2 separate regions of the Homo sapiens genome follow, and region 1 is linked to region 2. Evidence: fine-mapped expression QTL. A gene starts in region 2. The other region holds a variant in brackets. All regions are shown on one strand. Distances are from middle to middle.

Region 1 (8,337 bases), 27 kb after region 2:
GGTGTGTGCATGCATGCAGGAAGGCATTTTGCCTATTCGATGTGATTGAGGCCCATGTAGGGTCCCAGCAACCTGAGCAGAAGAAATAGGAGAGTTAGAGGCCAGAGAAGACTAAGAACGTGAGTGGCCAGTGCCACTCCAAGGGGCTCATGGGAGCAATGTCCCACCCTGGACCCTGGTGTCCCGCCCTGGCCCACTCTGGAGGATGCCTCCCTGCCTTCAGCTGCTGTGCCCCTCCCTGTGGGCTGGGAAGTCCTTGGGGTCCAGGAGACACACCCACTTGTGGCTTGGACACCCTTTTCTTGACCTAGCTCCTGAGACTTCAAAATGCCCTGCCCTGAGCCCTGAGCTGAGCCCTGAGCTTCCAGGGTTGCTGCGGGTCTCTTCCCAAGGTCCATAGCAGGTTGTGGAAAGAAGTTGGCTGGGTGGGCCAAGCTGTCCTCATAGGTCCCTCCCAGTTCAGGACAGACGCAGAAGCTGAAGAAATGGGCTGGACCCACACATTTGAGGGGTGGGCCTGTATGGGGGAGCCACGTGGAAGCCCTGGCACTGCTGAGAGGGATCTATGGAGGGCTGAAGCTCCCACAGTAAGTCATGGGACACCCTTGGCTCCTGGGGTGGGGTGGGAGGACTTTCAGCTTCTTCTATGGTTCACCCAGACCAGCTCCCCAGAATCTATTCACCCACAAAACCCAGGTGACTCACTGTGAGTGAGAAATAGTGTGGAGCACAGTCAGGGCCTGGCACAGAATTCCATGGGGAATGGCATACCTTGGCAGAATATGCTCTCCTCTGTGCATCCCTGGAGGTGGGGTTTGGAGCCCCCTACCTATCTAAGCATCTGGGTGGCAGGAGCTGGCATTCCTTTAGTGGCCCTAGAGGAAGGGGCTAGTATGAGGAACAGGGCTGTGCAGTGGGGAGATGTCAAGATGGTGATGCTCTCCTCTCTCCCTTCTTTCTATTTTTATCCTCCCCATTCCCTCTCTCTGCAGGCAGGCGGGCTGGGGGCACAGGGAGAAGTCAGAGGGACCTGGGCAGGGCAGGGGTGTGTGGAAGGGAAAAAAGAAGACATTCCTGAGTTGCCTCTGTGAGAGAGGCATACCTCTCTCACAGAGGGGCATACCTGGGGCAGACCAGACCCTAGGCGAATACCTAGAAACTGGCTCCAGCTTGCAAGTGATGAGCAATATTGAGCAGCCACAGAAAGGAACCTTGATGTCTCACTCAGCAAAATTTTAGACAAAAGCACTCATGGACCATGAGCTAGTCTGGCGAAGAGCACGGGCATTAGAGGCAGAAGGACTTGGGTTGAATTCTGGCCCTGGTACTTTATGTGGGTGATCTTGAGTAAATGACCTGGCTTCTCCATCTTATCAGCCTCAGTTTCTCCACCTGTAAAATATCTTCTTGCTTGTCTCTGTGTGAATTATGGCCATCAACAATCTCAAATTGTGTCTGTTTTTAATAGATCTCTTTTCAGTCCATTGATTTGTTTTTCTGTCCTTACCATGAGCTCAGATCCCAAAAACTGGTTGTTTTGTTTCTGGTTATAAAAGCAAAGACCAGCTTTGGCAACAAATAGGTAAATACAAATACGTTTTGTCACTGAGCTTGGTTCTAGAAAATAATTTTTTATGTATTAAAGTTTATAATGATGGCAATGACTATTAAGTAGATAAACCAGGATGTGGAAGACACTGATGTTAACATAACTTCTTAATATGTCCATCACTGTTTTGTAGCAACTAAAAAGACAATTATGGCATCTATCCTTAACTGATTGGGCTGTTTGTTATATGTTGATCACACCCCAAATGGTGTGAATGAGATTGTGCTACTTAGTAGTGTCAGGCACAAATAATCAGCCAATGAAGGATAACTATGATTATTGGACCAAGGTGTTCAGGTTCTGTTGACAGATCCCTCTATGTCTAGCAGCCACTAAAGTGATTTCCCAAAGCCCAGATGTGATCATGTTCTTCGCTTAAACATCTCCAATGACTGCTGTTGCCCAGAGGACCAAACTCATGCTTGGCAGGCAGAACCATGGCTGATGTGGTTCAAACCTATTTTCACAGCTGCTTTGCCTGCCTGCCAGGGCCATTCCTTTCTTTCCACACATCTGTGCCCCAGGAGAATGGATTTCACCTCTCCCTGAACACACCCTGCCCACTCAGGCTTCTCCAGCCTCTGCTTGTGCCCTTCTTCTTTTATTTTTCTGGAGAGCTTCTATGCATTCTTTAAAACCCAGCACAAATGCATCTCTGGGAAGTGTTCCCCAGTTCCCCATGCAGAGCTGTGTGTTCTCTCTTCTTACTCATAGGTAGAGCCCTTTACCTGCTTGATATGGTTTGGCTCTGTGTCCCCATCCAAATCTCATCTTGAATTGTAATCCCCATGTGTCGAGGGAGGGACCTGCTGGGAGGTGATTAGATCATGGGGGGAGTTTCCCCCATGCTGTTCTTATGATAGTGAGTGAGTTCTCACAAGATCTGATGGTTTAAAAGTGTGGCACTTCCCCTCCCCCATCTCTCCTGCCACCATGTAACACGTGCTTTGCTTCCCCTTTACCTTTTGCCATGATTGTAAGTTTCCTGAGACCTCCCCAGCCAGGTGGAAATGTGAGTCAATTAAACCCGTTTTCTTTATAAATTACCCAGTCTCAGGTAGTTCTTTACTGCAGTGTGAAAATGAACAGTGTGAAAATGAACAAATATACTGCTCTTATTAATGCACTTACAGCATTCTATTGAATAAAAGAGACATTATTGACCTGGGAATGAACTGCCCCAAGGGGAGTCAGTGTTCTACTTGTCTTTGTATCCTCAGAGCACACCACAGTGATTGGCAGATAGTAGGGAACTAAGCAGATGAATGAATACAGACCCATTCCCATGTACTTCAACTGATTTTTCCAATTAAGGCAGTTAGTAGCATGATTCCTGGTGTCAGCCAGCCCTGGATTGAAATGCTAGTTGACATGGTTTGGCTCTATGTCACCACCCAAATCTCATCACAAATTGTAATCCTCATGTGTCAATTGTAATCCCCAGGAAAGACCTGGTGGGAGTGATTAGATCATGGGGTCTGTGTCCCCCATGCTGTTCTCGTCACAGTGAGGGAGTTCTCATGAGATCTGATGGTTTTATAAGGGGCTCTTTCCGCTTCGCTCACCACTCTTTCTTTCCTGCTGCCACATAAGACGTGCCTCCTCCCCTTCCACCATGATTGTAAGTTTCCTGAGGCCTCCCCAGCCCTGCGGAACTGTGAGTCACTTAAACCTCTTTTCTTTATAAATTACCCAGTCTTGGTAATTTTTTACCGGTAATTATAGCAGTGTGAAAACAGCACTTGTAAATGAATTTAGATAGGTTACTTAATGTGTCAGTTTCCTCAACTGATAATTGGGAGTAATATTAACCACATAGAGCTGTGGGGAGGATTAAGAATGAAATTGGACTACTCAGTGTCAGGCACAAATAATCAGCCAATGAATGACAACTATGATTATTGGGCCAAAGTGTCCAGGTTCTCTTGACAGATCCCTCTATGTCTAGCAACACGTGGCTATGAGACTAAAGTTTTGGAACACAGAATCTATTGGTGTGGAACCAATTCACTTCAGAGGTAGACCATTGATCTTGATCTTGTTGGCACTTTGCTCAGCTTAATTGTATTTGAAGATCAGAGGGAAGACTCAAGTGGGTCAAATGTCTAGAGAAGAAAACCCAGTTAAACCAGGTAGCAGATTAGGGAATTTTACCCTTAGTTACAGTTTACAAAAGCAAGTGAATTGTTTCCTTATGACTAGCCTTGATTAGTGACCACTAAAAAATGTAGGTTTGAATTTCACAAGTCATACATTTCCCAGAGAAGAGCCCAAACTTATCAAGACAATCTTTGGAAAAGCAGCTGATAGAGGCATAATCCACAACTTTAATTAACAATGAGGCTTTCAAATTGAACACACAGAAGGAAAATTAATAAATTGTTTAATTTTGTCTTTCCTGTACCTTACTTGTGTGATGCATATCCTTCTAAATGTGCCATTACAAATGCATAGTTTTTTCATCAACTGCTGATTTCATTAGTGTTTAGAAAACATCCAGTTACCATGCTAAAAGAAAGTGAAGAGGCAGCCTAGATGCTTGCTAAGCCAGAGTTCAAGGTGCCCTGCCCACGCATCTTAACGTTACTGCCCTTAACTTACACAGCTTGGCCTGGCTGCGCCACTTAAGCTGCCAAGAAAGTAATCCGGGACTCTTAAGGGTTTTCGTGCGGGAGTCTCATTTGCAAGTTTGATTTGGAATGTGCTCTTGACAAAGG[C/T]GGTTCCACCCTGTGTTCCTATTGCCCTGGCTTGGCTCAGTGCAAGAGGGCTACTAGCAGTTTCCGGAAGTCCCCGGAGGTATCTGAGCGAACCATGTCAGAGAGAGACTTCTGATACTTCTCTTGGAACTTTGCTTTGATCCCCTGAAGGTCCACCTGTAGAAAAAATAACAGCAATGGAGATAAGAACGTTTATGGTGTGTTCACAAACAGTGGGCACTGTTCTACACATGTTATACTCATTTGCTCATTCATGCCTTAAAACAGCCCTTGAGATAGGGCTTTATTTCCTATCATTATTTCCTTTATCACGTTATTTCAATTTTGTGATCAGGAAAGGGAAGGCAGAGGTCAATTCCCCAAAGGTTGCAGAGGTGTCCACGTGTGTGTGTGTTCCACTAAAACTCTTGAATTTCTTTTTTTTTTTTTTTTTTTTTGAGACAGAGCTTTGCTCTTGTTGCCGAGGCTGGAGTGCAATGGTGCAGTCTCGGCTCACTGCAATCTCCGCCTCCTGGGTTCAAGCAATTGTCCTGCCTCAGCCCCCCAAGTAGCTGGGATTACAGTCAACCACCATGCCTGGCTAATTTTTTTCTGTATTTTTAGTAGAGACGGGGGTTTCATCATGTTGGCCAGACTGGTCTCGAACTCGTGACCTCAGGTGATCCACCCACCTCAGCTCCCGAAGTGCTGGGATTACAGGCGTGAGCCACCGTGCCTGGCCCTAAAACTCTTGAATTTCATACAGTTTTTACATGTTACAAAGTATTATCTTTCTTTTGAGTTTTAACAGTTATTTGAAAATGAATTGCCCTAAGCTAGCAGGACTGTACACAACCTGGCAGTGAGCCTGAATTGGCCTGCAGGCTGTAGTTGGTTGACCCCTGGTATAAAACTAAGAAAATTGTCAACACAGAGATGTGGAATTAAGCAATTAAGCAGTTTTTCCCTCATACCATGATTAGCAAGGATATTAGTACCAGTCAACACAACTCAAATCACTAGCAACTTGTAGGATTTATTTTGAATCTAATTTATTGGAAGCTTGAAAAACCCAGGTGCTAGAAGTGATGATAGGACTCAGGAGAAAAATAAATCCAAAGATTGCTCTGCCAGAAGATTCTTACAGCCTAGCAAAGGAGACGATACTTGTACCAGAAAAGATGTAATTCCAGGTAGAACATAATGGATCTCATAAAAGAAGCAGAGAACTCTTTTTAACCAGGAGTCTTTCTTTTCTTTTCTTTTTTGGCTTAGACCCTACCTTGTACTCCAGACCCAAAAAGTGTGGCTCAGGGATCTGATTCTTTCTTCTCTTGCCCCAGTGAGAGGGCTGAGCTGAGACAGTGAGAGAAATGATCAGGATGGGAGTATGTGGGGGAGTGAGGGAGGGTTTGCAGTGGATGTGGAGCAGGTGGCAGACACTACAGGAGACAGGTGGTGTCTGTCTCTCCCCCAGCCTGTGTGTCCCCCTGCTCCGCTGCTTGGCTCCTTGCCCCGTGCTGGGACACGGGCAGGAAGGTGGAGGGTGGGTAGGGATGGGGTGCACAGGGCTCTGTTCTGTGGCTTTGGGAGATTAGGAAATCTGGCCAAACTACTATATCTAGCCAGGCCTGAAGCCTTCTGAGGTAACTGCCCACATGTTGAGATGGCCCAGGACGTGTGGTTGATTCTGAGATGGGACAGAGCTTCTTGGAATAAAACACTCCGTGGGCCATGTCGGAGTGATCACGGAACCCTCACAAGCCCTTCGGATGGATCCAGTCTCTCTGGGGGTCATTTGGAATCCTGGGTCTTCATTGTGTTCAACCTGTCCCTTTTGAGTCCCTCAAGATCTCTCATCTCTCAGTGACTTTGGCTGGAGGTCGAGTTGCTAACAGACAGAGGGACGGACAAGGCAGAAGACCTGGAGAGAAAGGAGGGAGAGGGATTTGGAGCCATGGAGGAGAGAGGCAGAGGCATGGCAGGAGCAGAGCAGAGAGACTGGCAAAGGGAAAGAGGGGAGAGAGAGAGACATGGCCTTCAATAGAAAAAGATGAGTTGTGGAGGAGGAGAAAGGAGGGGAGGAGAAATTCCAGGAATAGAAATAAAAAAGCAAGAACCATCTTGTTGCAAAGTTATATTTAAAAACAGTGTCAGATGTTAAGCATTATTTGTTAAGAAGCCATGGATCAGAATTTGGGTTGGTGTCCCTCCCCCTTCACCTCCCCCTTCATTTAACCACTTTTTTTTTTTTTTTTTGAGGGAAGATGTCTGTGGTTTTCAAGTGCTTAGTTCCACTTCATTCCCCAAGGCTTCTCCTGCTGCCGATGAAATGCCACTTCCCCTTTATTTTGTACCACCTTCTGTCTGTGGCCCCATATCCCGAACTGTTAGCTGTGACCTTTTTTTTTTTTTTTTTTTTGAGACCGAGTCTCGCTCTGTTACTCAGACTGGAGTGTAGTGGCACCATCTTGGCTCACTGCAACCTCCACCTTCTGGGTTCAAGCAATTCTCATGCCTCAGCCTCCTGAGTAGCTGGGACTACAAGTGTGTGCCACCATGCCCAGCTAATTTTTGTATTTTTAGTAGTGACGGGGTTTCACCATGTTGGCCAGGCCGGTCTCGAACTCCTGACCTCAGGCGATCCACCCACCTCGGCCTCCCAAAGTGCTGGGATTACAGGCATGAGCCATTGCACCCGACCAGCTGTGATCTTGACGGCTGCTCCCAAGCCGTTGGCTCTTCCTCTCCCTTTTCTTTCTTATACATACACATTCTCCGAGAGCAAGCACAAATTGGTTTTTAGGGGGTGAAAAAGCCCTTAATTTTTTTATGTATAAAGCACTGATATCCACATGGTATATAAACAGATTTGTAGTATTATCTCTGGTGTTAACATTTCTTGTGGGGAAGGGATGGCAATGAAGAAACACGTGTCTAAAAAGGTTCCTTAGAACAGCAATAGTTTTTAAAAAGATTGAGAACCATTGCCTTATGCTGATGTGCTTGCTTCTGCAGTGTGTTCAGTTAAGGAAAGGCCTCACTCAGGAATTCAGAAATCATTCTCTTTTTGTTCCTGCTGCTGGTTGACCTCTTTCAAGTGTGTTTGTTTTGTCTTCCTTAACATGGAGCCATGCATAGCTGCAGCCCCTGAGAACTGCTCGACATGGTTGCCTCTGCGCCCCTCCACTAGCTCTCCAGAGCCACAGAGGACAAAAAAAGAAGCAACGATCATTATTGTATTTTTATAAAAAGAAACAGATTGAAGCAGAGCACAATGTCTTCTGCAAATTCTGGGAAGGCAAGGGGCCGTCTCTGTTTTACTTTTTCTGTAAATAGGCCCTTAATAGAAACTATTTGTTGATGACATCAGTGGTGGAAAAAAGAGAAGTTGCAGCCGCCTCTTTGGAGTCGGAGTGTGTCTTACCTCGGCCCTGGTCACGACTATGCGAATCAACGTCTCCTCATCGGTCCCCGCACCCTTCATCGACTTGTACAGACGTTCAGCAAAATAGTCCTCACAATCCTGGGCACATCTCACTGGGCAGGACAAAGGAAAAGAGAATGTGAGGCTTTCACGTTTTGTGGAATGACCTTGGGACCCCCCTAAATGTCACCTGGCTGCCCTTCGAGCTGACTGGATGGTGAGACAGAGGTGTGAAAAGAGCTGACTTGACACCGTTGCGAAATGAGATTTGGAAGATTCCCTGGTCAGAGCACCTGGAATCTTCAAGCATAGCTCCCCTCCTGTCCCCTGAAGACCCTCTAGAGGAGAGCTGTGGCATCCTCGGGCCCTCCCGGCCACGTCCATGATTCTCGTTATTTCCCAGCAGAAATAACTTTCCCTATCGAGTGAAATCTCTGGTGCTGTCCTAGGGTTCTGAAGGGAAACAGATTGGCCAGCAACCTTCTGGAACAAAACTTCATCATCTTGACAATGTATCCAGTTGGACAGCCGCCTGCTCTCCTATGCTCAACAACCTCCCTACTCTTTGTTTTTCCTCACTGGGGTTGTTTTGCAAGCCTCATCTC
Region 2 (8,337 bases):
CTGCATCTCCCTCTAAGTCGGATCTTCCCTTACATGCTTTCTTAGCACCCACCCCACCCCTCCCCCTCCTCTTTTATTCTCCATCCCCACCTTCCTCTCTCCTCTCCTGCCCCTCTGCTCAAGTCAGCTTCAGCCAACTTCACAGGGTTTGCTCCAACATTCCCTTAACCCTGGCACTCTCTCTGATTCTCTCTGGACCAGCGGTGTCCAATCTTTTGGCTTCCCTGGGCCACATTGGAAGGAGAGTTGTCTTGGGTCACACATAAAGCACACTAACACAAATGATAGCTGATGAGCTAAAAAAAATCGCTAAAAAAAATCTCATCATGTTTTAAAGTTTATGAATTTGTGTTGGGCCGCATTCAAAGCTGTCTTGGGCTGTATGCGTGTTGGGCAAGCTTGCTCTAGACTGGTTTAGGGCATCCCGCCTGTGCTCTTAGAGCACCCCTCTCTTCAGCGTCTGAATTGCAACTGAGGGTTATGTGTAAATTGCTGGGTCTCCAGGCCCTTCACAATGGTTGATGTTCAACATAACTCTCATAGATGAGCAAAGTACATCTCGTGGATGCTTCTGATTGTCTGTAAAGGCAGGCTCAATATTCACGTTCTGCAGAGATTACCAGGAACTTGCATAAAGCTGGAAAACACTTAATATTCTGAAATGTGGCCTTTATTGAGCATACTTCTCAGACAGCTTGTTAGTGAAATTAATGTCTGCCGATCATTAAAAGTAGGGGTTTCCCAACCTGGCTGCAACTTAGAGTCTCCTGGGGACTTTTGTAAACCATACATTTTAGGATCTCACACAAAGATATTTTGATTCAGTGATGTGAGGTCAGGTTCCAGGGGATTTGGTCACAGAGGTGTGGACCAAGGCTTGGGAATCTTCTTTTAAGGCCTTACTGACTTGAGTTAGAAGCACCTGCCAAATTCCTATGGGACTTCACTATCTGACTTTCAATATGCTGTATAATAACTTGAATTTTTAGATATATATTTTTCTCATCAAATGAAGATAAACTCTGTGCATAGGGATGGTATTTGATATCCTTTGTTATGTATTATTTTTGCACAAAAAAATTCATAAATTGAAAAATATCTTGCTGAAAATCCTTCTTCCCTCCCTCCCTTCCTCTCTTCCTTCCTTGCAAATAACAAGTGTTGGTATGTGTGTACATGGGTGCACATGTGTGTGCATGTATGCATGTACGTATTTGTGTTCGTGCATATGTATAAATGTGTGCATGCATGTGTAGATATATGTAAATGTGTGTATGCATGCATGAATTGTATATGTGTATGCATGTGCACACGTATGCATGTTGGCATCTGCATATATGTGTGCATATGTGTATGCATGTATGCATGAATATACATTTCTGCATATATGTGTGCACGCATGTATGCATATGTGTGTTTGTGTATATGTGTGCATATATATATTTATGTGCATATATGTGTTTTTTGGTGTGTATGTATACATGTGCATGTGTGTGCAAGCAGGTGTGGGTGTGTCCAAGCACACATACTCATGCAGTTACGTGATGGGAAGAACCGGCCATTTACCTGGATAAGGCGCACAGGGTTCTGCATGATGTCCTCTCCTCCAAAGAGATAGAGTCTTTGGTCTTTCACAGCGACTGCGGGGTGGAGCACCCCCACGGGCATGCTGGCCATACTCTCCCAGACATTGCAGATGCTGTCATACCTTTCCATGGAGCCCATGAGCTCCTGCCCTTCTCCAATCCCCCCGATGGAGAAGATGAAGTTCTTATGGGCAGTGCTTCTGTGGGAGTAGCGGGCCACCAGCATGGGCTCCCCCAGCCTCCACTGATTGAGTTTCAGGGAGAAGATGTAGACATTGTGACTGACCAGACTCCTCCCTGAGCTGACAGCCATGCCCCCCAGCACATAGATGCTGCGGTGCAAGGTGATGGCAGAGGCCTTGTACAGCCGTGTCGGGAGTTTGGCAAGGCTCTGCCATTGGCCGGTCTGTTTGCTGTACAGTAGGACGTCCCTGGTGGTCTGCTGGCTGTCCTTCCTTCCGCCCAAGAGGATGAGGAAATCTTGGTAAGAGTTTCTTGGAGGGACATGCAACAGGAGTTTGCAGTCTGGGACGGTGGTGCCACACAAAGAGAACATCTGTCTCTTGGCGGTCTCCAAGATGATCTGGCATGCAGGCGAGGACTGCAGGAGGGCATCGTTGGCGATGAAGTGGTGAAAGAAGGCTGGGTGGATGTACTGCAGCCTGACCTGCTTGAACAGTTCCTGCATGTATCGCTTCCGGGCCTGGAGGTCATGCTTGATCCAAACCATGAGGGCCTCAAACACCTTTTCCTCCTCCCCACAGAGCCCATCATCTCCGAGATAGTCCCTCAACTCCAAGGCACAGAGCTCCTTCAGGTCGGCCGATGCGGCCACCTCTGGGAAGGACGTCAGTGCCACCTCCCTGGCTTTCTTCTTGAGGGTCTCGCAGCTTAAGATTTCTGAGAGTCTGATCATACCCAGGCAGTTGCTGGGGGCCAACTGGCTCTGCAAGTACGAGGAGCAGGCCTCAAACAGCTTGGGGAACTGTAGCATGGAGGCGGCCTCCATCACGGGGAGGACATTGTCAGTGGCAATATGTGCCTCCCCCGTATACACGTAGGAGACGATCTGGTCCAGGGTTGGGGGGTCAATGCCTTTCAGCTGCACTTTGGCTTCACTCTTCTCCCGGAAGCTGCTGCAGAACATAGCCCTGAAGTAGGGGCTGCTGGAGGCCAGCACGTTGCGGTGGCAGGGGATCTCCCGGGCACCGGCACAGATGCTCACATCAGTCAGGATCCTGCTTTGCCTTAAGCTGTTGAGCTGCCTCAACAAGTCAGAAGAGAAGTCGTGGTCTTTGAAGAGCAGCCCATCTAGTGACTCCTCGTCCATCCTACAAAGAGGGAAGGAAGCCCCCAGAGTCAGCAAGAGTCAAACCTTTCTCAGCTGCATGTGCTGGAGGGTTCAGCTGTGGGGACTCCAAGACCAGTGCTCCTATTCCATTCCCCATGATGTTTGCGGATGTCACCATGGATATTGTGTAGGGAAGATTGGAAAGGAAGGCCACATACATCTCAGACCTGAGCCCTTTTGGGTTATGGTTATTTTCAAAAGTAATAGGCAAATAGTATCTTCAGCTAATCTGAGAGAAACAACCAAACAAACAAACTAAAGTTGTTGGAAGTTACTCTGTTATCAGAAGCTGAAATGTTAGTCTGAAGCAAGATAACAGTCCATGGATTTGACCAGCAGAAGTTCATGAGCCTTTTTCCAGATCGATGGCATATCTGTTATTGAGTAACAGATGTCTAAACCTCTCTTTCTGGGTGTCAATCATTCCCCAAGGATGATATTCTGGAGGTGTGGCCCTCTGGTCACTGGACAGAAATGAGGGAAGAAAATGGACCTTTGATGCATATATTTAAATATGACTTCATTGAGTCTTGTTTTAAAGATAGAATAAATAAAAGGAAAGACCAAACAATCCCCTGGTTTATTGGATGACACCTGGTTTTCTACTTGCAGAAGAAATAAGTATGAGGGACACTTACCTTGTTTTGCTGCGGTGACATCCACTGGTGCCTGGTCTGACTTATCCCCCCGGAGAGTTTCTACCTCTAGCTCCAAGGGAAACCATAAACCCCAGGCCTTTCTTTCAGTTGGCAAATGATTTGTCCTGGGAGATTTCTGGATTTGTTTATGCTGAAGGCACTTTCATAGTTTTCTAGAGCTTTGTGCAAGGACTGCTGGGCAGGGAGACAGTGTATACATTCCAGGGCTAAGAATAGTTGCATATGTACTTTCCACTGTTATGACATGTGACTTTCCAGTTGCCTTTTGCAGCAACCCGAGGGCCTGCAGGGCCGGCGCATGCCCACATGCCTCGTTTCCTTGGCAAGTGTTTACATCGGCAAAAATAGATCGGGAGGAGCGGCTTCTCTTAGAGAAGACTTTGCTGTCTGCTTGGAACCATCCCGAGTCCCCTGTCCTAAAAGTGCTTGGGAATTCTAGCCGTCTGTAAACAGGTTGCTGTGACCTGTGGAGAGTCACTGAAGATGGTTCTGGGCCACAGTGGAGGTGGCAGGTGGTCACAAGGGAAGCCGGAACATGAGCCTGTGGGTGCTATTCAATGGATCTCTATTTCCCACCATCTGCCTGGCGGGATCGCTGGGGAGAGCTGTGATTTCCTCCTCCAGGATCCTAGGTGATGAAATCCATGACAAAAGTTGTTGTTTTTTGTTGTTGTTGTTGTTGAGCATCCCAGGGTTTCCAGACTCCTGAAGGCCCAAACCTTTGTCAGGTCTCCTTACTCAGGAACCTCTGATTGACAGTGGTAAGGCCGAGCTCCTCCTGTCGCGTCTGCCTCTCCCAGACACGTGCTGATTGCTCTTCAGCTGGCTTTTTATAGTTCAGACTTCCTTTTCTGTCTTACTTTTCCATTTTGTCTTGTCTGGCAGCTTGAGCTAGAGGCAGGAGGCAAGGCATATTGCTTTAGGGAGAGAGAGAAAGAAGATGAAGGAGGATGAGGAGGAAGAAGAAGCAGGGACAGAGGGAGGGAGAGAGACGAGAGGAGGAAGAAGAGGAGGAGGAATAGGAGGAGGAGGAAAAGAAGCAGGAGGTAGAGAATCGGGGGAGGAATGATGATAGTGATGTGGTAGGAGGCAGCTTTCAATAACAATCAGAATCACGAGAGAGAGTGAGGGGGACCTCAGGTCTGTTCTGCCCCTGCCTTCAGGGAGGTCCATGATTGTCTTAGCCACAAAAGGCAGGGAAGCCTGACTTTGTCTCCTACTCAACGTCTTGCTCAACTAGTGCAATGGTCTTCCATGCATTTTTTTTTCTTTGCTCCTAGTACTTCTCTCTCCAATACATCCACCCTGTCTTCTCTGGAGCAGCCCCTGGGAAGGCAACTCAGAATTTGCCAGTCCCCAGCATCAGGCCCTTCAGTGGCTCCCCATGTCTGCAGGACTCCTTAGCCAGAATCGGACTGGTGTCCTGTCTGCTTCTGGAACCATGTCTACTGCCACTCATGTGTGGTAATCTAGCTCCATGAGACACTTACAGATCCTTGTATGCATCTGGTCACTGTTGGGGAAGCTGGGCTGGCCTGGCCTTTGGGACACCACAGGGCAGGGTGGAAGGAAGAGGGTTTCTCATTCACAGTTGCCGATCGTAGAGTGGATTATGCCCAAAAGAGTCCAGAAGGTCAAGGCCAGGGAAATGGATCCAAAACATGTTACTGGGGCCATGGGCCTGGAGGCCAGAATTAGGAGCAGGAGGCCTAAGCTAAGGGGGTCAGAGACCCATGGAGGCACAAGCAGGGAGCAGGTGAGAGGAGCTGTTCCTCCATATGTCCGAGTTGGTGAGCTGTGCTGGTGACATAATAAGTGAGTAGCCACATTCCTGAAAGAGCCCAGGGATCCTCTGATTCGTACTCTATCCCTTTCTATGAGCTCTTCCCCTCTGCTCACTCTATCATTTTCACTGTTTCTGTTCGTCTTCCAAAACTTGGTTTATGTATCACTTCTCTGCAAGTCTTTTTACCCCTCTCTAAGACACTTAACTTCACACTCCTCTGTGCAGTTTCCATTCTTCTACATGCCTCTAATGGCATGCCTCATACCTCACTGAGATTATGTTTACTTCCCTGTGTCTCTCTTATTAGAGTGGAAGTCTCTGGGCAGCAGGAATCTTGACTTCATTGTAGCTCTACTCCTAGCACCCAGCACAGGGCCTGGCTTATAGGGGGTGAATTTCATACACTTCCTGCATTGAGCTGGAACAGAATGGGGAATGGGGAAAGAGAGGGAGCTTTGCTGGGTGGACTTCACACCACTGTCTGCTGTGCCGGTTTTGCAGAGCTGCCATGTATGGCTTACTGCGTAGACTGCCCTGCAAATATGCTCTGGAGCAGCCCTGATTATCCACATAATCAAATCCAATAATGTGATGAAGTGAAAAGTAAAACACTTGTTTTATACTGCAGTGCAAGACTTAAGTTCAGGCTGGGAACTGAACTGAGGTCCTCCCAACGCCAAAGCTAGCATTCTTGTCCTTGACCTCGGAGTGAACATGAGGAAGAAATAACTTCCTTAATGCTCTGAAACACCTGCATGATTTCTCTTCCAGGCAGCAAGCAAGCCAAGGATTTATTCTGAGGGTAATAGGTAGGGGATCCTAGGAGTGAATTAACACAGCACCGTTCCCTGGGAAGGATGTTGGATTTTCCCCTACATCCCCTTACTAATTAAACTTTCTGGAATCCAGCTCTGTCAATTGTTCAGATAGACCTTGGTGTGCAGCATCAATGTCTGACCAACTTTACTAAATCTTTTGGTTTCTAATGTTTAGAAAAAATAGGCCCTGTTTTGTTGGCCTGGCCTACCAGGAGGATCCTGGTTCTAGGTCAGATGTCAAATGTCAAGACACAGAGTCTTAGTGTTCAACATGGCAAACACACACATATAAGCCCAAGCTTGACCCCAAAAAGCATCTCTACCACCCACATGTAGCCCAACCAGCCCATTCATGAGTTGACTTCTCTCAGGGAGGTTTATACTTTTTGTCTTAACTTTCATCTAGAAGATGTCTTAGTCTAGGGCCTGAACATATGGCAACCTAAAAGAAATGACATCAATGAGGACATTCAGCTCATTGTTTCTCCTTTTTTTGTTTCTTCTGAGACAGGGTCTCACTCTGTGGCCCAGGCTGGAGTGCAGTGGCATGATTATGGCTCACTGTAGCCTCCAACTCCGAGGCTCGAGTGATCCTCCCACCTCAGCCTCCTGAGAAGCTGAGACTAAAGGCATGAGCCACCACATCCATCTATTTTTTGTGTTTTTTGTAGAGACAGGGTTTTGCTATGTTGCCCAGGCTGGTCTTGAACTGCTGGGCCCAAGAGATTCACCCACCTTGGCCTCCCAAAGTGCTGGGATTACAGGCATGAATCACGGCCCTCCTTTTGATGAAAGTCAGTATCATAACAAGTCAAGGCCTGAACTTTGGGGGCAGAAGGGCTGGGGATAATCTTGGCATTTCCCCTCAGTATTCATGTGGTCTTGGGTAAGTTATTTATACTCCTCCAGCCTCAGTTTCTCCATCTGTTAAGTGGGGATAACCATCCTTGTCACAGTGAAATAATGTATGTGCAGTATGCAGTAAAGTGCCTGGCACAGTGTATATTCATAGTAAAGTATGGTCAGTATGATATTATTACTCTAAAATTAATCTCATTAGATTCCAATGGGTCTTGGTGCCTGGTTTTCAGTGTCTCAATTGGTCCCCTGTGCATTCTAGCATTTTCCTTTTCCTTGAGCAATTGCTGTGTTCCTCATGATCTACTTAGCCTCCAGGAGTCCTGGCATTCAGTCTGGGCTCTGCTATCGACTAGCTGTGCATCTTTGGATGAGTCAATTAACCTCTCTGCACTTATTTCCTCACCTGGCCCTTCTAGATCACCTTCCTGTGGTTTGTACCCTGAGGTGTTCTCTGCAATCTGTGGCCTAGAACAGGGACTGGGAGAAACTGAGACTGAGGGATGAGGGCTCTTCAGAGCTTCCTCACGGCTCTCGCCTGAAGCCAAGTGCAGAGAAGAAACCTAAGTCGAGCTCCCAGCAGGTGCCCTTGATGAGTTTGCCCTTGTAAGTCAATCCAGAAAGCCTTCATTTTCCCTCCTGGAGTTTTGGATTGCCATGGTGGGCACTTTGACTCAGGAGGCCTTGGTTTCTTTCCTATCTGGGTGTGCGGGGTCTGGGTCCCCAAGGAAAGGGCAGGCTGGCTCCTGTCAGCAGCAGGTTTGACAACAACAGCTGGGAAGCCACAAAACACTCTCTGCCACAACCCTACCCTCAGTCCTCTCAACCCACTCGGGGCCGTGCTCCCCATCTGCTCCTTCCAGGAGAAGTCCCCTCACTCTAATTAGGAACCATAGCTATGGTGATTGCTGTGTTTCAAGGATGGACAAACATGCACATAAAGGCCCCTGTGGTGCTGCGGTCTCTCTGGAAGGCTGTCCCCTGCTAGCATCAGAGAATCTCCTGTTCTTACAGGTGGAGAGAAACATGAGGAGCAGACAGGTAAGGTTGCAATTAACTGAATCATTATAAGCTGTAGGAAGAAACCTGGGTCTTGATATAAGATTTTAAATGTTTTTAAGTATACGTGAGAGCCTGTCTATCTGTGTCTGTGTCTATCTGGCTGGGTGTGTTTTTTCAGCAGCCCGTGGAAAGCGGAACAAGGACTTTGTACTCCAGACAAAGGCAGAAAGGGGGCCTGATCCATGAGTCCAGGGGTTGCCATGACGACCGTCCTCCA

Alleles and levels. Positions count from the first base shown, and alleles are read on the strand shown. Sizes are in standard deviations (SD) of each study's normalised expression.
For the expression in fibroblasts of the gene that starts at base 3,791 in region 2, C is the high allele of the variant in region 1 and T is the other (small effect, 0.16 SD a copy in GTEx).

What was found. PIP is the estimated chance that this variant, and not a neighbour inherited with it, causes the effect.
Region 1: its variant is fine-mapped to the expression of KLHL38 in fibroblasts (GTEx, PIP 0.99).

Annotation. Positions count from the first base shown.
Region 1 is chr8:123,676,878-123,685,214 of GRCh38, forward strand. ANXA13 (annexin A13) reads right to left here. Exons shown (of 11, transcript NM_004306.4): 10 at 7,733-7,845; 11 at 3,917-4,482. The coding sequence ends at 4,363. Among named protein-coding and RNA genes, the nearest start is that of KLHL38, 27 kb to the left of the region's middle. The variant C/T (reference allele first, on the strand shown) is at 4,327.
Region 2 is chr8:123,650,011-123,658,347 of GRCh38, forward strand. It overlaps KLHL38 (kelch like family member 38), which reads right to left and starts at 3,791. Exons shown (of 4, transcript NM_001081675.3): 1 at 3,576-3,791; 2 at 1,567-2,917. The coding sequence starts at 2,916. It overlaps LOC105375738 (a long non-coding RNA gene), which reads left to right and starts at 7,928. Exons shown (of 4, transcript XR_928606.3): 1 at 7,928-8,099; 2 at 8,239-8,337.